Linked DNA regions of Homo sapiens: region 1 is linked to region 2. The links come from fine-mapping of genetic effects on plasma protein levels. A gene starts in region 2. The other region holds a variant in brackets. All regions are shown on one strand. Distances are from middle to middle.

Region 1 (10,867 bases), 110 kb before region 2:
TCATTGCTCCTGTCTCTTGAGGATGCAGCTCTCCTCACCTTTGAAAGGGTGATGAGGGCGTGGGCAGCTGAGCAGAATCAGGCCTGTTGAGACGTCTCTTACCACTCAAGCCTGGTTACACTGAACTCCATCCTGATCAGCCCAGTGAAAAATAAAAAACAAAGAGTTCCAGTCACCAAGGAGTTGGCAAGCTCAGCAGCAAGTAGGTTAGGTGGATTTATTTATTTGTTATTTATTAATTTTTTTTACTTGAGTGGCTTTTCTGGGCTTTCATAACCCGCTGCAGTTAGCTTTTGCTGTTCTTGCGCTGGATCGAAATCATTTCCTTAGACTTCTGTCTTTGCTGCTGCTACTCCTTAAGGGCAGGAGCTTTGTCTCATTCTTTGTTATATTCCCAGAGCCTAATCCAGTGCCAGGCATACCTGCCATGTACTCAGAAAAGATTTGTTGAGCAAAACAGGATTGGGCTTAGAGTAAAGAAAAAATTGCACTGTACTAAAACAGCCGTCTCTCTGGATCCACTTTGTGGTTAATCCAATATAAGAAAATGATAATTAGATTACATTTAATGTTTTATAATTATATATTTCTAGCCTAAGAATTTTAGTAGCTGGTGAGAATAAACTTGACGCCCACGGACTGAAGCTCTCAAAGCATACTTTTAGTATTATACATATAAACATGAATCAAAAGTAAACCAGCATTTAGAAAATATATTTTAAACTGCTTAGCATTCTCTTTTTAGAAATTATCAGCCAAGCATGGTGGCTCATGCCTGTAATCTCAGCACTTTGGGAGGCTAAGGTGGGTGGATCACTTGAGATCAGGAGTTCGAGACCAGCCTGGCCAACATGGTGAAACCCCATCTCCACTAAAAATACAAAAATTAGCCAGGCATGGTGGCGGGCGCCTGTAATCCCGGGTGGCTACTTGGGAGGCTAAGACAGGAGAATCGTTCGAACCCAGGAGGCAGAGGTTGCAGTGAGCTGAGATTGCACCACTGCACTCCAGCCTGGGACACAGCGAGATTGTATCTCCAAAAAAAATAAACAAAACAAAAACAAAAAACAAAAAAACCACAAAATTATCTATAAAATCATTTTCTTTACAAACAACAAAATAATCAGTTTAGTAAAAAAAAAATTTTTTTAGTGATCCTGGAATAAAGTTTCCCACAAATGAAAGTTATAACTTACTGGGGAGATAAATAGAGATGTGAATTACAGGAAACAGGTCATGTTCCTTCTATTAAAAAAAAACAAACAGCAATAAGTTTTTACTGTTTTCTCTTTTATTTTAAAAGGAACAACTTTTCCTTGATAAAACTTGGAAAAATATGGATAAGGGATTTAAAAAATCATCCTAATCTACATTCTATAAATAATCAATGCAGAGAGTTTGAGTATTTCTTTTTAGTCTTATTTCTATACATTCACATAATTATTACATGGTTGAGATTGTATTGTTTACATGGTTTCACATCTGGTTCCTTTTTTACTTAATGTCATAGCTTGAGCCCCATTAAAAAAATAAAACGGTGACACTGATACACTTTTGGACAAGACCATGTTTGGCCTTGCCTTTTTCATGTTGGTGAGTGACAAACTGACCATCTCACTCTTGTCCCAGTACCATTCCTGGGGTAGAGATGGGCTGGGCTTAGCAGTATAGTCTCTGGCTTTATGCACAACTGGGCCTTATTTTTAATGTATCTGGTTATGTCTCAAACACCTGACCAAATATTGCACCTTAGGAGGGGCAGGAGGAAGAGCAGTACCCAGAGGAAAGCAACAAATGTGGTGAAAGGGTCGTCTAAGGAAGGAAAGAACTGGGTTGCTTTCCCTGAACACAGAGGAGAATAGTAATAGTGAGTGGCCTGGCTCACTGGGAGTCATGACTGATTTGCTTTCACTACTCTGCTGGGTGTCTGCCTGGGCTCCTCCCACCCTCTCCACCTGCTGGGTCCCTGGGAGGCTGACCTGCAGGAGCGGCTCCACAGGCTCTCTTGCCCTGTGACTTCAAGCTGGGTTGGCCAGTGGGGAGCCCTGATGGGCTTAAGGAGAATGACACTGGTGTATTCACTCTCCAGCTCCCTTTCTGTGGAGTCACTGCAGGCTGGCTGTATCTCCCCACCAAAGGCCACACATGCCCCGTCATGCGCCCTCTCCATGGGGCCCTCTGACTCTGCCTCTGGTAAGCACCTTCTCCTCTTGTCCTGTCAGGTCTGGGATGGATGGGGGATAGAGGGGTGGTAGCAGTGCTTGTCATTACTAATTCTGGGCACTGCACTACTCTTTTCCCTACACTTTGACGATCTTTTAAATAGCCTTCTTTTAAACTCTTCAAATTATCCAATATGAGGGCACCCTTTATTTCCTGCCAAGATTCTGATAGAAATATTGAAACCACATGTCGCTCCTCCAAGGCTAGCATATTTCATTCAATATTCAGAATCCAACTATTACCTGAGTTTCCTCAGCAGGGTCATTTGAGGATAGTAAATGTATAAATGACCCATCTCCAGTTCCAGCAAGTGGCTGTTTCTAATGGCGCTGCTGCTGCTGGCGATGACGAACAGTAATGCCAGCTGCCGTCATGTACCCATTCAATGCCTGGGCCACATACCCTTCATGACTGGGCTTGATCCTCAGAACAAGTCATTAACAAGGTGGCTTTTGTTCCCACTTTAGAGTTGAGTAAATCAAGTATCTAGAAATTTAGACTAATGTGTGCACATCCATTGCCTCACCTCCTTTAAACCTTGACTCAAATGACATTTTCTCAGTTAAGCCTTTCCGGGCTACTCTAATTTTAACATTTCCCATGCCCCTTCCCTGCTTTATTTTTCTCCTCAGCATATCACTGGCTAATATACCTTTTTCTCCTCATTTGTCTTGATTAATGTCTATCTCACTCCACTTGAATGTAAGCTTCATGAAGACAGTGTTTTGTTTTCTGTTTTTTTTGTTGTTTGTTTTTATACGGTCTTGCTCTATTGTCCAGGCTGGAGTGCAGTGGCTCAATCACAGCTCACTGCAGCCTCGAACTCCTGGGCTCAAGCGATCCTCCCACCTCAGCCTCCCAAGTAGCTGGGTAGCTGGGACTATAATGCTCAGCTAATTTTTAAAAAGTTTTTCTTAGAGATGGAGGCCTTGCTTTGTTGCCCAGGCTGGTCCTGAACTCCTAGCTTCAAGTCATCCTCCTGTCTCACCCTCCCAAAGCACTGGGATTAGAGGTGTGAGCAACCATGTCTGGTGTTTTATTCACTGCTTTATCCCAGCACTTAAAATGATTCCTGGCACATAGTAGGTCCTGAGTGTGTATATATATATATACACACACACATATATATACACATATATACACATATATACATATATACACATATATACACATATATATACACATATATACACATATATATACACACATATACACACACACACACACATATATATATATATACACACACATATTTATTCAGGACCTACTATGTGCCAGGCATATATCAATCAATACATTATTATTGCTGGCACATAGTAGGTCCTGAATAAATATGTGTATATATATATATACACACATATATATATGTGTATATATATATATATACACATATATATGTGTATATATATGTATACACATATATATATGTGTATATATATGTATATACATATGTATATATGTGTATATATATGTATATACATATGTATATATGTGTATATATATGTATATACATATGTATATATGTGTATATATATGTATATACATATGTATATATGTGTATATATATGTATATACATATGTATATATGTGTATATATATGTATATACATATGTATATATGTGTATATATATGTATATACATATGTATATATGTGTATATATGTATATATGTATATGCATATGTATATATGTGTATATATGTATATATATGTGTATATATCTGTGTGTGTATATATGTATATACACACACACACGTATTTATTCAGGACCTACTATGTGCCAGGGATCATTTTAAGTGCTGGGATGAAGCAGTGAATAAAACACCAGACATGGTTGCTCACAACTCTAATCCCAGTGCTTTGGGAGGGTGAGACAGGAGGATGACTTGAGGCTAGGAGTTCAGGACCAGCCTGGACAACATAGCAAGGCCCCCATCTCTAAGAAAAACTTTTTAAAAATTAGCTGAGCATGGTGGCACATGCTTATAGTCCCAGCTACCCAGCTACTTGGGAGGCTGAGGTGGGAGGATCGCTCGAGCCCAGAAGTTCGAGGCTGCAGTGAGCTGTGATTGAGCCACTGCACTCCAGCCTGGGCAACAGAGCAAGACTGTATTAAAAAAAAAAAGAAAAAGAAAAAGAAAAAAACACTGTCTTCATGGAGCTTATGTTCAAGTGGAGTGAGATAGACATTAATCAAGACAAATGAGGAGAAAAAGCTATATTAGCCAATGATATGCTGAGGAGAAAAATAAAGCAGGGAAGGGGCATAGGAAATGTTAAAATTGGAGTATATATACATATTTATTCAGGACCTACTACGTACCAGGAATATATATATATAGCAATTCTCCTGCCTCAGCCTCCCAAGTAGCTGAGATTACAGGCGTGTGCCACCACACCTAACGAATTTTTTGTATTTTTTAGTAGAGATGGGATTTCAAGACCATGGCTGGTCTTGAACTCCTGACCTCAGGTGATCCATCCGCCTCGGCTTCCCAAAGTGCTGGGACTACAGCTATGAGCCTCCGCGCCTGGCCTTGAATAAATATTTTTAAATGAATGGATGATAAAGTCAGAATTCAGAGTCAGGTCTGTCTACCTTGAAGGTCTTTGTTTTTCTACAATATCCTCCTTAGCTAGTCACAAGCAATGTAACTAGATAACAGCCTCCAAGAGAAAACACAATAGCATTATTTTGTACTAGATGTAACCATTATGCAACCTGTTATGACTGTAACATGAGACCACTAATGAAAAAAAACAAAATGATGCTGACATATTTGTTTTTAAAAATGCGTTTACTACCAAGACAACGAGACATATGGTAAGACCATGTGGGCTTTCACAGAAATGAGGAACCATTTGGAATGGAGAAGAAAGAATATTGAGCAATGGATTTTGGTGCAGATAGCAGCCACTCACTATTGACTCAGTGAAGGTGCAGGTGCTCATGGAGTGAATAGAAGCTTTCTTCAGGGTCAGAAGAGACAGATGACATAGGCATGCAAGTTGAGAATGCATGGCCAACTGGTGGGAGCATGGGTCTGGAAGAGGCAGACATTCTGGAACTGAATCCTGAATGTTGCCTTTTCCTTGGACTTTGAGTGCTTTATGCTTCATTTCCCATGGTACTTAGGAAAGGGGGAAGGAATAGTAATGACTGAACAGATTGGTGGTAAGAAATACATTCAGCGGCGGCTGGGCACAGCGGCTCACACCTATAATCCCTGCACTTTGGGAGGCCAAGGTGGGTGGGTCACGAGGTCAAGAGATCGAGACCATCCTGGCCAACATGGTGAAACCCCGT[C/G]TTTACTAAAAATACAAAAATTAGCTGGGTGTGTTGGTGTGCGCCTGTAGTCCCAGCTACTGGGGAGGCTGAGGCAGGAGACTCACTTGAACCTGGGAGGTGGAGGTTGCAATGAGCCGAGATTGCGCCACTGCACTCCAGCCTGGTGACAGAACGAGACTCGGTCTAAAAAAAGAAAAGAAAAGAAATACATTCAGCAGCAAGTTGCAAAGTCCTTGCTTTCCAACTGTGGATATTCCAGAGAGATCAATGATTACCTGGTGACTAGAGCATAGGCTGTGGCCTTAGACACACATGGGTTTACCTGCTTGCTCCACCACTCACCTTGACCTTGAGAAAGCTACTTAACCTTGCTAAGCATCAGTTTCCTTGGTTACATAATTGGATAATAATAGTATTGATTTCATTGTTATAAAGATTACAGGAGATAACCCTTGCACCTAGCACAGAAGAGGTGCCCAATAAATAAGTGTTCAAAATCACAGTTATGTTGGACTAATAACTGGATTTGGATGGAGTCAAATTGCTGACCAGAGGGAGTTACCACTCTCTCCAGCATGAGGTCTCCTGTCATTACAGGGAAGGGTAATAGTGATAGAGGACCTCAGGAACTTATCCCACCCAGGATCTGGGACCTCTGACATCACTAGGTAACAGTTTTTCCTTCTCATAGAAAGCGGGTAGAATTAAAAGACTGGACTATTTGTTCAAAGTTCTCTGGGTGCCGCTTCCCAGAGAAAGGCTCTATTTTGCCCAAAATCTTCTTAAAGATTGTGCCTGCTTGTGGTTTAACATTGCTATTAGAAATATGTAGAAGCTTGCCCTTTGGCATCCCAAACGACATAGGAAAATTATGAGTGATTGTCACAAAGGGCCTATAATTTATTCCCTGAAAAAAATAATAAAATGACTGAGAAGACGCCTCCCACCTTAGGAAATGCAGCCCACCAGGACTGCTGGACTCATCAGCAATGCATGAACATGCCCTCTCTTTTCTACCCCCAAGAATGTAGACATTACCTACTAGCCACGTGAGGGTATTTAAATTTAAATTGATTTAAAAATATTAAAAAGTCAGCTCTTCAGTGGCATCGACCACGTTTCTAGTGCTCCATAGCTGTATGTGGCTAGTAGATACCATATTGGATTCTGCAGATATGGAATATTTCTATCATCATGGAAGGATCTACTGGATTGTGCTGTCTAGTGGGTAATGCCAGCTCAAGGCTCAGAGTCATTCAGACAAAGTAAAAAGCTTCATTTTCAGACCAGCGTTGCAAGTGGTAAGGAAAAATTGAATATTGCTTAGCATGGAATATCATGGAGAAAATAAGAGACCAGAAAATCTTTTCAACCGGACTCTAAGTGTCCTCAAACTTCCATGTCACTGCGATTTTTTTAAAAGTGTGATCCAATCTAGAGAGAGCATTGTGCCTGCATTTTGCCACATCTTAAAATAATGATTCAAATCTTCTCTAAAATATAATTTTATTGTAGAACTGTAAGTCAAGCAAACACTTAGAATCCTGAAGAACCCTCACTCAGGTCCTTACTGAAGGCTCAAACGCTGTGTCTCAACTAAGGCAAAAGAGGTTTTGGAGATTTTTAATGAAACAGGGCCCTGGCTCTAGAGGCCTGGGTACCTCACATGACTCAGATCACCACCTACTACCCTGACACCCCTCTCCCTTATGTCTTCTTCCCCCCAAACACATTCACTCAGCCATCTCTAACCCTTTCTATTCCACTTCCTGTGTTGCCTCCCAACCTCTGCCCCGGTCATTGGTCATTGGTATTGGTCATTCTCAGTCAATTCAAGCTCCTGTGATGGATGAGGGATGGGTCAAGTAGGGTGGAAGGTCCTTAAAACCTTGAAAAGTGGGCCGGGCAAGGTGGCTCACACCTGTAATCCCAGCACTTTGGGAGGCTGAGGTGGGTGGATCACCTGAGGTCAGGAGTTCGAGATCAGCCTGGCCAACATGGTGAACCCCCATCTCTACTAAAAATACAAAAAAAATGAGCCGGGCGTGGTGGTGGGCACCTGTAATCCCAGCTACTCAGGAGGCTGAGGCAGGAGAATCGCTTGAATCCAGGAGGTGGAGGTTGCAGTGAGCTGAAATCACGACATTGCACTCCAGCCTGGGTGACAAGAGCAAGACTCTGTCAAAAAAAAAAACAAAAAACCTTGAAAGATGAATGGAGCAAGAGAGTCACAGAGGCCCCTGTGGCAGTCTGATTGCAGGACCACGGAATAAAGCATCTAAAAAACAACCTGAGCTTTTGCACACAGTGAAAAACACAAACACAAAAACAAAACCTCCTACTAGCATTTTCGTATTATGCTAAGAGTCGTTGTCTCCTTCTTGGTTTCGAGTTAAATTTTAAACAGCTCTCTCTTATTACTTTAGGCTCAGTAGCTGTTGAGCATTAGGAAAGCAGACATAAAAAGACTTGTTCTGCCACACTGGCAACCTTGAATAGCCCACAGGCTCACAAGGCTAGGCTATATCATCAGTGCCAAATAAAATGAGAGAAGTTTCTAAATATAAGCAAGAAGAGTCTTCAAATATCCAAGAAAACAAGAATGATCTTATTTCCAAAGGAAATAATGTAGGGTGGTTGCCCCTGCAGTTTAGTTAAAGGGCTAGTAAATTCCCCAAGTCAGTATTTGTGAAGCTCTTTACATTTCTTAGAAAAAAAACAGCCCAGTGATCCCTCAAGTTAATATCATCCCATTGTGCAGTTTACATTCCTCGCACAGTGTTTCCACTGCTCTGGAAAAAGCCTACTGTGGCCCAGTGGTTTTCAGAATCTGCAAAGCTATGAAAGCTGCTCTTAAATGAAATCTGACAAGAAGCCTGATATGTAAAAGAGACGGAAGTGAAGCTGCTCTGGTTGAAGGAGGAAGGAGGCCCAGGCTGTCACCTCGGAGTCCCTACGGAACCTGGAGGGCTTGTGGAGCACCATTCGAGCTTCACTACCCCATATGGACTTATTAGAAACCTCACACTGCACATTTCAATGTCAAAGATGCTCGGGTTGGGGAAGATTATCATCTGTCACTTTCAAAAGAAGTTTGTAAACGATGCTGCAAGCAATTACTTCAAGGACCAAGCAAATTCAAGGATGCTGAGACTAAAAAGAATTATTCATCCACATTTAATATTTGTCTGCCACACTCATGCAAAAGAGTGAATTCTTTGCAGCTTTAGTGTTATTTTAATAGGTTATTGCTATTGCTTTTACCTTTATGGCATGAGAGGGCTTCTGTACCTGTACAGACCAATGTCCAGAAGTCCAGTAAGTGACAACATGAAAGAATAAAGCAAACATTTCATTAAAACTTTTTTCTTTTTCCTTTTTTTATTGAGGTAAAATAAACATGAAATTTACCATCTTTACCATTTTTTTTTCTTTTTCTTTTTGAGACGGAGTCTCACTCTGTCGCCCAGGCTAGAGTGCAGTGGTGAGATATCAGCTCACTGCAACCTCCACCTCCTGCGTTCAAGGATTCCCCAGCCTCAGCCTCCTGAGTAGCTGGGATTACAGGCACCCGCACCACACCCAGTTAATTTTTGTATTTTTAGTAGAGATGGGATTTCGCCATGTTGGCCAGACTGGTCTCGAACTCCTGACCTCAGGATCCACCCACCTTGGCCTCCCAATGTGCTGGGATTACAGGCATGAGCCACCCAACCTGGCCTCATCTTTACCATTTTTAAACATACAGTTCTGTGGTAATAAATCCACTTAGAATCTTTTTCCCTTTATTTTCCTCTCCTGCAAAGGTCTCATTTTCAATTTACAAAACATTTTACAAATTATTGCTTAAAGATGATCACATTCTAAATTTTTATTTTGCGATGCATAGCATTTTGGTGCTAGGAGAAGAAAAAGAAGATATTGGTGTCAGGGGCAGCTACAGGACAATAGGGGAAAAAAGAAAGAAAATTTTCAGGGGAGATTTTTGGTGTTCTTAGAGGTGGCTTTCATGCCCTGTAAAGATTGCTCGGGTCTTTTCTATATTCCTTTACATTTTAAATGACAACTGAAAAAGTTTTGTTCTTTCTTAAGATGTCAACTTATAAATCTTATTGTTGCATTTATTAATACAAATCTAGAAGAGTTCAATAATCACATTTTAGCCTTTACAGCTTAATCTTTTAAGCATTTAAAATTATACTTATAATTTTAATATAAATAAATTTTTTTGCCTTAGTTGGTTATCAAATGAACTTTATTGTATATTTATATAATTCTTGTACATCTAATTAAATTTACAAAGATGGTTAAACTTAAGTTCTTTTAATTATTCCATTATTGCTTGTAATCCAAGTAAAATTATCTTATTCCTCTGAAGTCTAAATCAACCCAATTAACTCTTTCTAAATTGGAATCACAACTTGCTAGATTCCTTAAAATGCCAAATTCTTAAATACTGCAAGCACTTAGAATACAAGAAAAACACAGATTATTCTAAACTTAACATGGAAGTATAAATAATTTGAGTTTTATTTATTTCATCATTTTTCTATTTAATAATAAATCTTTTCAATGAGAAAATAACGTCAGCCCAAACCATAGCTGATGTTTTTGACCCAGTGCACTGAGCTTCTTAATTGTACTCAGAAAGCTCCTGTCCAGACCACAGGATTCCATCCTTTTATTTAATTCTAATGGGTCACATGAAGCCCAGATCCTTTTAATAGTGACCATAATGAGCTTCTATAATTTTCAAAAAGGGTGGGTGTCCTAGACCATCCCCTTGAGTTTAAATCATATTATTACCTAATTGTCTTTATTATTGGAAATCTGTAAGTCCATTAAAATTGTAACTAACTCTTGTACTTCTTTGGGTCTTCTAAAATAGAAATGTTATTTTATTTAATTCTTCTTGCCGTGAGGATTGGTCTAATTAGTCACAAATAAAATCATGCTGATAACAAATAATAAAGAAAAGGACTGTGGAATTAAATACAATTTTATAGAAAAGGTTTGAGCCCAAAAAGAGAAAATACAATTGCAGATGAAGGAAATAACTAAAAAGTTAGTTAAGTGGGCATTATTTAAGACCTTTTTTGTTTTTGTTTTTCGTTTTTTTTGTTTTTTTTTTTTTTTTGGAGACAGGGTCTTGCCGTGTCACCCAGGCTGGAGTGCAGTGGCAATCTCGAAATCTCGGCTCACTGCAACCTCCGCCTCCTGGGCTCAAGCAATTCTCCTGCCTCAGCCTCCTGAGTAGCTGGGATTACAGATGCACGCTACCATGCCTGGCTAATTTTTGTATTTTTAGTAGAGACGGGGTTTCACCATGTTGGCCAGGCTGGTCTGGAACTTCTGAC
Region 2 (10,867 bases):
GGGAGGCTGTGTTGTGCACTGAAGGATATTTAATGCCTCCCTGCCCTCTGTATCAGCACTAGATGCCAGTAGCTCCCATCCCTAGTTATGACAATCAAAAATGTCTCAAGATATTGCCAAATGTCTGCTGTGGGCACTACTGCCTCAAGTTGAGAACCACTGATCTAACCAATCTGCTGTTGTTTGACATTTAGGTTTTATCTACTTTGTCACAATTTAAAGCAGCAGCACTTATGAAGCTCCTAACATATACAAACTCAACACATCTTCAAATTACTTCTATAGCATAAATTTCTAGCAAGGAATGGCACATACAAAATTTTGATGTCTATTCCCAGATTTCCCTCCAGAAAGATTGTATTAATTTAGAACACCATTGAAACAGCATAAATGTCATTTCCTGAGATCCTGTCTACTTCCAGGTATTGTCAATCTTTTTAATCTTGCTTTGTGATAAGCAAAACAAAGTATTACTTTACCCTTTTAACTTGTAATTCTTTGATTGCTTACCAGGTTGGTAACCTTTACTATATTTATTAGCTATTTGTGTTACTGCTTTTATGAACTGCTTATTCATCTCCTTTGCTCATTCTTTATTTTGTAAGAGCATTAATTCCTTCTTCCAGCTTGTAATTTTTCTCATAACCTGATTTAAACCTTTCTTCTTATAACCTTTATAAGGTTTTCTGTACAGAAGTCATACATTTGTATGTTTTCAAATTATTAGCCTTTTTATTATGGTTTTACCTTTAATGGTGCCATACTTAGAAAGATCACCTCTAGGTCCAGGCCTGGTGGCTCACACCTGTAATCCCAGCACTCTGGGAGGCTGAGGCAGGCAGATAATTTGAGGCCAGGAGTTCGAGACCATCCTGGCCAACGTGGTGAAACCCCGTCTCTACTAAAAATACAAAAATTAGCCAGGCGTGGTGGTGGGCACCTGTAATCCCAGCTACTCAGGAGGCTGAGGAAGGAGAATTGCTTGAACCCGGGAGGTGGAGGTTGCAGTGAGCTAAAATTGTGCCACTGCACTCCAGCCTGGGCAACAGAGCAAGACTCTATCTCAAAAAAAAAGAAGAAAGAAAGAAGATCACCTCTAAAATCTCTAAACTTCAGTATTTTACTCTATTAGGCTAACCTTTTATTTTGCTGTTATCTTTCATACTCTTAACACTAAATTTTTTTTTCTCTCTTGACCAGTGCACCTTAAACTTGAATGTACATATACATCATCTGGAAATCTTATTAAAATGTGTGTTCTGATTCAGTAGGTTTGGAGTGGAGTGACAGATTCTACATTTCCAACAAGCTCCCAGGTGATGCCAGTGCTGTCCCTGGCCTGCACTCTGAGTTACTAGCTCCTAAACCTTCAGCACTCAGTCCTCTGTACCCCCTACCTCCATTCTCTGACTCCTTCCTGAAGTTGCCTCCCTTCCTACCTAGTGTGAACCCCAATGGCAGCAATTTCAACTATAGCTCATCTCTGTTTTTCCAGAACAACAATCCTGGCAATCTCCATTCCAGTATTGATGAAGCCACCATTTCTTCCAGTCTCCAGCCACAGCACCCTGCAGGAAATCAGATAGTGTCCACGTACTTCTCTTAAAAAGATAGGATTTCTAAGGTACATCAGCAAGCCTTCACTTTGTTCCCACCCAGTTCCCTTTCCCATTCCTAGAGTAACTTTGCCTAAATTTAATCTTCTCAAGCTCCAGTCCCCCTCCTCAGACCTCTTAGTCAATGAACAACAATGAAAGGGAAACGTCTTCAACCCTTCCAGTGGAAATAACATTTAGCATAGTGACTACTGCACAATTAAAAAAAAAAAAACCTACTCAAAGACTCTACAATGTCATACTAAGACTTCCAACTCTTAGGCCAGGCAAGGTGGCTCACTCATGTAATCCCAGCACTTTGGGAGGCTGAGGCAGAAGGATCACTTGAGGCCAGGAGTTCAAGACTAGCCTGGCCAACATGGTGAAACCTGGTCTCTATTAAAAATGCAGAAGTTAGGCATGTGTGGTGTAAAAATACAAAAGTTACGTAGGTGTGGCGATGCGTGCCTGTAATCCCAGGTACGTTAGAGGCTGAAACACAAGAATCGCTTGAACCTGGAAGGCAGAGGCTGCAGTGAGCTGAGATTGCACCACTGCACTCAAGCCTGGGCAACAGAGTGAGACTGTATCTCAAAACAAACAAACAAACAAACAAACAAACAAACAATAAAACAACTTCTCTTTAAGAAAAAAAAAAAGATGGCCAGGCACGGTGGCTCACGCCTGTAATCCCAGCGATCTGGGAGGCCGAGGCAGGCAGATCGCCCGAGGTCGGGAGTTCCAGACCAGCCTGGCCAACATGGTGAAACCCCGTCTCTACTAAAAATACAAAAATTAGCCGGGCCTGGTGGCAGGTGCCTGTAATCCGAGCTACTCGGTAGGCTGAGGCAGGAGAATTGCTTGAACCTGAGAGGAGGTTGCAGTGAGCCGAGATCATGCCATTGCACTCCAGACTGGGCAACAGAATTGAGACTCCATCTCAAAAAATAAAGAAAGAAATAAAAAATTAAAAAAAAAATTCCAACTCTTGGAAAATTCCCTTTAAAGAGTTACGAATTAAGCTGGTTTATTTATGTAATAAACGCTTCGCACAGTTCTTACAATGTGCCTGCCAACCTTATTTAGGTAGGTACAATTAAGACTTCCACTTTACACACCAGAAAATAAGGCACAGAGTCGACACAGCCACTGAGTGTCAGAGCAAGAATTGGCACTCATCCCGTGAGCGCCTCAGTTCTTTTTTTTTCTTTATATATACTTTAAGTTCTAGGGCACATGTGCACAACTGTGGCACATATACACCACGGAATACTATGCAGCCATAAAAAAGGATGAGTTCATGTCCTTTGTACGGACATGGATGAAGCTGGAAACCATCATTCTCAGCAAACTATCGCAAGGGCAGAGCGCCTCAGTTCTTAAACCACTCTTCTATGCTGCGGCAGAATCACTGGAAGTCTCAGGGAGTCCTGAGTGCGCAATTCTAGGAAAAGTATCTATATCTGTAAGAAAGAAGGGGCAGGGAATCTAACGGTTCTCAGCTCTTGAAGGCACATTAGATTCATTCAAGGTCCTCTCTAAAAATACACTTTCTTGGGCCTCCACGAGAAAAATTCTATTCAATTAGTCGTGGGCTTGCATCCGTATTTTTAGTCTGTAAAAGTGGAATGTTATCTCAAATCAGTGGTTTTCAAACTTTTTATATTCTGCGGACCTTGACACGGGCCCCCAATACCCTGACACGGTTACTTACAATCCGGGAGAGAGTGGGAGAAAGGGGGAGAGAGGGAAGGGGAGAGGGGGAGGGGAGAGAGAGAGAATGAATGAGAATGAATCTTTTAGAGAGGTAGAGGGGGTTGGCCCGTGCCACAAACCACCTCTCAGGTTTGAGTGAAGCCTTCGTTCTCTCTCGTGCAGAGACCATGCCATCCTTCCAGAAAGGAGCATTTTAGGACGTTTTAGGACGAGAGACCTGTAATTGGCCTAAGACTCAGGTGCAGGTGGAGGAAGCATCGGATTTACAACAGTGGTCCTGCCTTCTTCGATGTGACTTCCAGTTTTAAATTCAATTCTAATTTACACAAATCCCACCCACTATGTAAACTTGTTGGAAAATGTCCTGCACTCTGCACTTCGTGGCATTTAAAACTTCCACACACGCGCGCGTTCTTTCTCGAAGCCCCGTGATTGCTTAGCCTCGCTGGGCAGCTTGGCACTGCTGGGAGCTTGGCTCGCCCTGCCGGGGCCGACGCCGCCCGTCCCGCAGGAGCCCGCGCGGGGCTCAGGGCACTCAGGACTCCGCATGCGTCCCGGCTCCAGGTGGGCCCCGGCACCGCCAACCGCAGGAAACCCGCCGAGCCCTAAACGTCTCCCAAGCGGCTGCAGTCTGCGACAGAGAGTGTCCCTCGGTGGAGCGCCCTGTGGCTGCCCAGGCTACAGCCGTGGCCGAGGCGAGGACACACTTCTGACCTGGGGCTCCAGCAAAGACTGTCCGCGAGCGGCGACTCCATGCCCGCAGCCCTCCGCCCAGCTCAGCCGCCCGGCCGCGGGCACCAGCAGCCGCGCCACGAAAGGGCGCACCGCGCGGGCGCCGTCTCTCCTAGGTGCGAAGGCGGCTGAGGCCCCGCCCGGGAGGCACCCGCGCGGCTCCGGAGTGGGCCGGAGGGACGTCCGGGGGCGGGGCCCGGGCGCGCCCGCCCTCTGACCGGGCTATAACACCCGGCCCCGCCGGGCGGCCGCGGGTGGGTAGAGGTGCGCGCCTGGGACCTGGTGAGGCTGGGGGTGCGCGGGGCCGGGCGCAGCTGTGGCAGCTGCCGGACGGCGGAGGCGCCAGGAGGAGGAGGAGAGGGAGGCGCGGGCGGCTGGGTCGAGGGCACCGAGGCTGCCCGTGCTCCCGGTCTCTGGTTGCACGGCTCACTCCCGAAGGTGTTGCTTCCAGCTTTTGCCTCCTTAGGAGGCAGGGAGCGTCAGTGTCGGGAGACCCTGAGACCGGAGTACCGAGACGTAGCTGGTGATGCCCCCGCCTGCCCTCATGTGTTCTCAGGTTCTTCTTATTTTTATTCATCTCTAGAACATGGACTTCCCGTGCCTCTGGCTAGGGCTGTTGCTGCCTTTGGTAGCTGCGCTGGATTTCAACTACCACCGCCAGGAAGGGATGGAAGCGTTTTTGAAGACTGTTGCCCAAAACTACAGTTCTGTCACTCACTTACACAGTATTGGGAAATCTGTGAAAGGTAGGGTCCGTCTCGTGAACACTTTGCCAAACCCTCAGTCCTCCCTTTCAGTATTCATTAAATATGCCCCAGCTTCCTGTCTGCTCTTCCACGCACCTACTCTGAGTGGCACAGAACAAGTCAACCGGTACCGTGCGTGTTGGTTGTTTTCTGCTTTTGTTGGGAGGAATAGTAGGAAGAACTGAATTTTACTGGACTTGTCCATTGTAATTCAGTGTCACTGAGTCCTTTCCATTATTGGAGTTCTTCTGTCTTTTTGGATCTTGCAGACATTGGTTATTTGGGATGTATGTTTTAGTTCCTTTTCAAGATAAACTCCCAAGTAAGTCCGTTTATCCGTTTCAGTTCCCCTTTGTGTGGGCTTCTTTATATATGACTTGGACTGTTAATGTCATTTCTTCATGTCTCTTTTAAACTGAAATAATGCAGTTTTGTTGGTAAGATTTCTGTGTCATCTGTAGTTAGCCTTTTATTTAAAGTTATGCAAAACTATCATTTCTGCAAGTTTCTTTTAATCTAAGTAGTACAGTTCTGTTGGTTAGATTTGTGTCGTGTATAATTAGCCCTATGGCTTAAAGTTATGCAAAAAAGTGGTTCTATGATTAAAGGCTGTTTTTAAAATGTATCCATTTGAAGAAGACAATGCTAGATAATGAATATATATTAGTAGTGATTGAAACTCTTCCCAGCATTTTCATATTTATCATTAATAATTTATTGTTCTAAGTTAGAAACTACATAAAGTTATTTTCATTTTTATAGACAGCAAGTTTGAATCAGATAAATTAAATAATTTGTTCAAGGTCTCCCAGATGGTGAATTTTATAGCCAGGACTGGCACCCATCCGGCCAAGGCAAATAATTTGATCAGATATCGTTATTTCATCTTTCTTTCTTTCTTTCTTTCTTTCTTTTTTTTTTTTTTTTTTTTTTGGTCAGAGTCTCGCTCTGTTGCCCAGGCTGGAGTGCAGTGGCGTGATCTCGGCTCACTGCAACCTCCGGCTTCCTGAGTTCAAGCAATTCTCCTGCCTCAGTCTCCCGAGTAGCTGGGATTACAGGAATGCGCCACCACAGCTGGCTAATTTTTTTGTATTTTTAGTAGAGATGGGGTTTCACCATATTGGCCAGGCTGGTCTCAAACTCCTGACCTTGTGATCCTCCTGCTTCGGCCTCCCAAAGTGCTAGGATTACAGGTATGAGCCACCGTGCCCGGCCGAGATACCATTATTACTTAATCATCTTTTATTATCCTGATGTTCCCAAAGAGGTTACCAGAAAACTTAGTCCTTAAATCAAAAGTTTCATAAATTTTATGCAATTTGGATCTCAACTTTTTGTAAGGTGTGTTCAAACTCTACCTTGATTTTAGCTCTGAACTTTTGAGTCAATTGAGAGTCTCATAATTACCATATTCTTCATCATTTTTCAAAAAAATCAAGGCTATGGCTTCTATATTAAAGAAAAAGTATTATATAAATGTATTTATGTGCAATGCGAAGTCAATATCCTGGGCTGTGTGTAATAGTAACTTTGTTTTTAAACAGCATTGCCAAAGAGATGGTGCCAGAATTACTCTATATTGCTCTATAATCCAAAATTATAGAGGTTGGGTGTGTGAGAAATCATATCTTGAATCAGCATACGTATTCAGCCTTCTGAAATCATTTTTCCCTAGGGCTAGAGTAGAGCAATTTAAAAAGATCTAGGAATACTAATTATATTAATTAAAAATATATAGAACACAACTAGCTTGAGTTATTGTTCAGTCATCATTTCAACCACAAGATGATGAGGATGTTGTTAATTTTAAGTACTAAGTGATTTGGTAAGGTTTTGTATTTTCAAACACAATGTGCTTGTGACAGTTGGGGGCTCTCTTTCCTAATATGAATCAGCAGTTGTGATCTATCCTGCATGATATCAAACCACAATCACAGTGAAAGTCAGCAGGCTTAATTTTGTTTTTAATTTTACCTTGTATGCACTCTTGCGGTTAAAGGCTTGAGGAGTTATCATGTAAAAATAAAATCTGACACTAGTGGTTAAATATTTGTGTTGAATATGTTGTTCTGAATAATAACTCGGATTAAGAAAAATCCCAAATCTGCCATTTGGCTCCAACTGGTAGATGAAACTGTATGCCAGTAACTGGGAGTCAGTTGCCAAAGTGTCACTGCACATTAGTGTGACAATTGAGAGATGGTGCTCCTTTGTTGGTGGTCTTTTTCACTAGATATTTTCCCTAACCATTCTGCCCTCTGATGTAAGATAAGTTTGCTTAGAAAACAGAATTTATGACCAGGCCCAGTGACTCATGCCTGTAATCCCAGCACCTTGGGAGGCCGAGGCGGGAGGATCACCTGAGGTCAGGAATTTGAGACCAGCCTGGCCAACATGGTGAAACGTTGTCTCTACTAAAAATACAAAAAATTAACCAGACATGGTGGTGTGCACCTGTGGTTCCCGCTACTAGAGAGGCTGAGACCGGAGAATAGCGTGAACCCAGGAGGCAGAGGTTGCAGTGGGCCAAGATCATGCCACTGCACTCCAGCCTGGGTGACAAGAGTGAAACTCTATCTCAAAATAAAAGAAAATAAACAGAATTTATTATACACGTGTTATTTATTTATTTATTTATATTACATGTATTAACGTGGGCAGTCTTACCCAGAAGGGAAAGTAATATTCCTAAGTAACTAAATACATGTTTAGTTTTTGTAAAAACTTAAATATATGTGCTATGCCTATGTAAATATATGCATATCACATATTTTCTTTGTTGTAATTGTGGATTATATTCTGCTTGTTTTTTCATTTCATGTTATTTCCTTAGATATTTCCATGAATTGACAAAGTCGGTAGATGTGAATTCGTTGCTGTTTAGTATTCTATCCTCTTGATTATGTGAATTTTCTTAGTCATTCACCTCTTTGAGCATCTGTATAGTTTTTGGTTAACTCTGTTATAAACAGGGATACTATAAAACCATTGATACATGTCATGATAATTACCTTCTATTATTATTGGTGATTTTTAAAAACGTTTTTATTTTGAAACTTTTAAAATCCACACAAAAGTTAAACACATCTATACCCAGCTTCAGCCATAGTAGACCATATTTCAGTTGAGCCTTTTGAAGGAAATCCCACTGCCTAGTGACATAGTAAAGAAAATCTTAGGTGAAACAAGAGAAGCAAAAAAGTACTGATGACTTAGTTCAGAAAAATCAGAAAAGGTACAGTGTTCATCAGTTCGTTCGTTCAATCCTCCGTTCAATTAAGGAAGCACCTCCCATTTTTTGCCCCAACCCCTTTGTCTAGAAGGATGCCTGGCACATAATCAATAATCTATATCTATTTATTTAATGGATCAAATATTTGCTGAGCAAAAGGCATGGGAAGCAAACAAACGTGTGTGTCATTCATTCCCTGCCATTAGGTAGCTCATTTTCAAATACAAATGTATTTACTGTGAATTTCTCAGGGTAGTCTCTCCACACACACCCCAAAATTAGTTTAGGAACATTTTATTATTTTTTTAAAAAATGAACCCTTGTGTTGAGGGTTGACTATCAATAGATAGCAATGAAAGAACTGCTCTGCTACATACAAAACCCCAAAGGGCCATTTTAAATGAGATTTCCTACCATCTATTTTAAGAATCTTGCATTGACTGGGTGTGGTGGCTCACGTCTATAATCCCAGCACTTCAGGAGACCAGCCTAGGCAACATGGGAGACTCCATTTCTTAAAAAAAAAAAAAAAAATTTAATTAACCAGGCATAATGGTGCATGCCTGTGGTCCCAGCTACTTGGGAAACTGAGGCAGGAGAATCACTTGAGCCTGGGAGTTCAAGGCTGCAGTGGGCCATGATCGTGCCACCGTACTCCAGCCTGGCCTACAGAGCAAGACCCTGTCTCAAAAAAAAAAAAAAAGTATCTTGTCTTGCCTCCTGCTAAGTCTGATCATCATTGTATCTGAATACAGTAGGCGGGATAATAACACCTTCCTTACTAGTGATAATACTATTAGAGATTTTTTAAAGCCAGCCAAATTTAGTAGTCTCTGTTATCAAGTACTTTCCATGTAGTAAATAGTTTAAGACATTATTTCGATCTCAGCAACTCAAAGTAGGCCTTATCCTCATTTACAAAACAGGTAAAATGAGGCACAGAGAGGTTAATTAACTTGCTGAAGATAACATAGCTAAGTATTAGAAGATTCAAACTCAGATCTGCCTATTTCCCAAGCACCTCTCTATTCTCTTTTAAAAAGCAGCTTGACATTTAAGTCTTTAATCCATCTTGAATTAATTTTTGTATAAGGTGTAAGGAAGGGATCCAGTTTCAGCTTTCTACATATGGCTAGCCAGTTTTCCCAGCACCATTTATTGAATAGGGAATCCTTTCCCCATTGCTTGTTTTTCTCAGGTTTGTCAAAGATCAGATAGTTGTAGATATGCGGCGTTATTTCTGAGGTCTCTGTTCTGTTCCATTGATTTATATCTCTGCTTTGGTACCAGTACCATGCTGTTTTGGTTACTGTAGCCTCGTAGTATAGTTTGAAGTCAGGTAGCATGATGCCTCCAGCTTTGCTCTTTTGGCTTAGGACTGACTTGGCAATGCGGGCTCTTTTTTGGTTCCATATGAACTTTAAAGTAGTTTTTTCCAATTCTGTGAAGAAAGTCATTGGTGGCTTGATGGGGATGGCATTGAATCTATAAATTACCTTGGGCAGTATGGCCATTTTCACGATATTGATTCTTCCTACCCATGAGCATGGAATTGTTCTTCCATTTGTTTGTATCCTCTTTTATTTCATTGAGCAGTGGTTTGTAGTTCTCCTTGAAGAGGCCCTTCATGTCCCTTGTAAGTTGGATTCCTAGGTATTTTATTCTCTTTGAAGCAATTGTGAATGGGAGTTCACTCATGATTTGGCTCTCTGTTTGTCTGTTACTGGTGTAAGACTTAAACGTTAGACCTAAAACCATAAAAACCCTAGAAGAAAACCTAGGCATTACCATTCAGGACATAGGCACGGGCAAGGACTTCATGTCTAAAACACCAAAAGCAATGGCAACAAAAGCCAAAATTGACAAATGGGATCTAATTAAACTAAAGAGCTTCTGCACAGCAAAAGAAACTACCATCAGAGTGAACAGGCAACCTCCAAAATGGGAGAAAATTTTCGCAACCTACTCATCTGACAAAGGGCTAATATCCAGAATCTACAATGAACTCAAACAAATTTACAAGAAAAAAACAGACAACCCCATCGAGAAGTGGGTGAAGGACATGAACAGACACTTCTCAAAAGAAGACATTTATGCAGCCAAAAAACACATGAAAAAATGCTCACCATCACTGGCCATCAGAGAAATGCAAATCAAAACCACAATGAGATACCATCTCACACCAGTTAGAATGGCGATCATTAAAAAGTCAGGAAACAACAGGTGCTGGAGAGGATGTGGAGAAATAGGAACACTTTTACACTGTTGGTGGGACTGTAAACTAGTTCAACCATTGTGGAAGTCAGTGTGGCGATTCCTCAGGGATCTAGAACTAGAAATACCATTTGACCCAGCCATCCCATTACTGGGTATATACCCAAAGGACTATAAATCATGCTGGTATAAAGACACATGCACATGTATGTTTATTGCGGCACTATTCACAATAGCAAATACTTGGAACCAACCCAAATGTCCAACAACGATAGACTGGATTAAGAAAATGTGGCACATATACACCATAGAATACTATGCAGCCACAAAGAATGATGAGTTCATGTCCTTTGTAGGGACATGGATGAAATTGGAAATCATCATTCTCAGTAAACTATCGCAAGAACAAAAAACCAAACACCACATATTCTCACTCATAGGTGGGAATTGAACAATGAGAACACATTGGACACAGGAAGGGGAACATCACACTCTGGGGACTGTTGTGGGGTTGGGGGAGCGGGGAGGGATAGCATTAGGAGATATACCTAATGCTAAATGACGAGTTAATGGGTGCAGCACACCAGCATGGCACATGTATACATATGTAACTAACCTGCACATTGTGCACA

Evidence for each region. PIP is the chance, under the fine-mapping model, that this variant and not a neighbour inherited with it causes the effect. Sun 2018 read protein levels with aptamers (SomaScan).
Region 1: its variant is fine-mapped to the plasma level of the CPM protein (Sun 2018, PIP 0.95).

What each region holds. Positions count from the first base shown.
Region 1 is chr12:69,034,286-69,045,152 of GRCh38, reverse strand. No RefSeq gene overlaps it. Among named protein-coding and RNA genes, the nearest start is that of TODL, 32 kb to the right of the region's middle. RefSeq lists enhancers at 1,551-2,050, 2,051-2,552. The variant C/G (reference allele first, on the strand shown) is at 5,529.
Region 2 is chr12:68,926,600-68,937,466 of GRCh38, reverse strand. CPM (carboxypeptidase M) reads left to right here and starts at 4,296. Exons shown (of 9, transcript NM_198320.5): 1 at 4,296-4,325; 2 at 4,627-4,789. The coding sequence starts at 4,630. RefSeq lists silencers at 3,917-4,026, 4,057-4,416.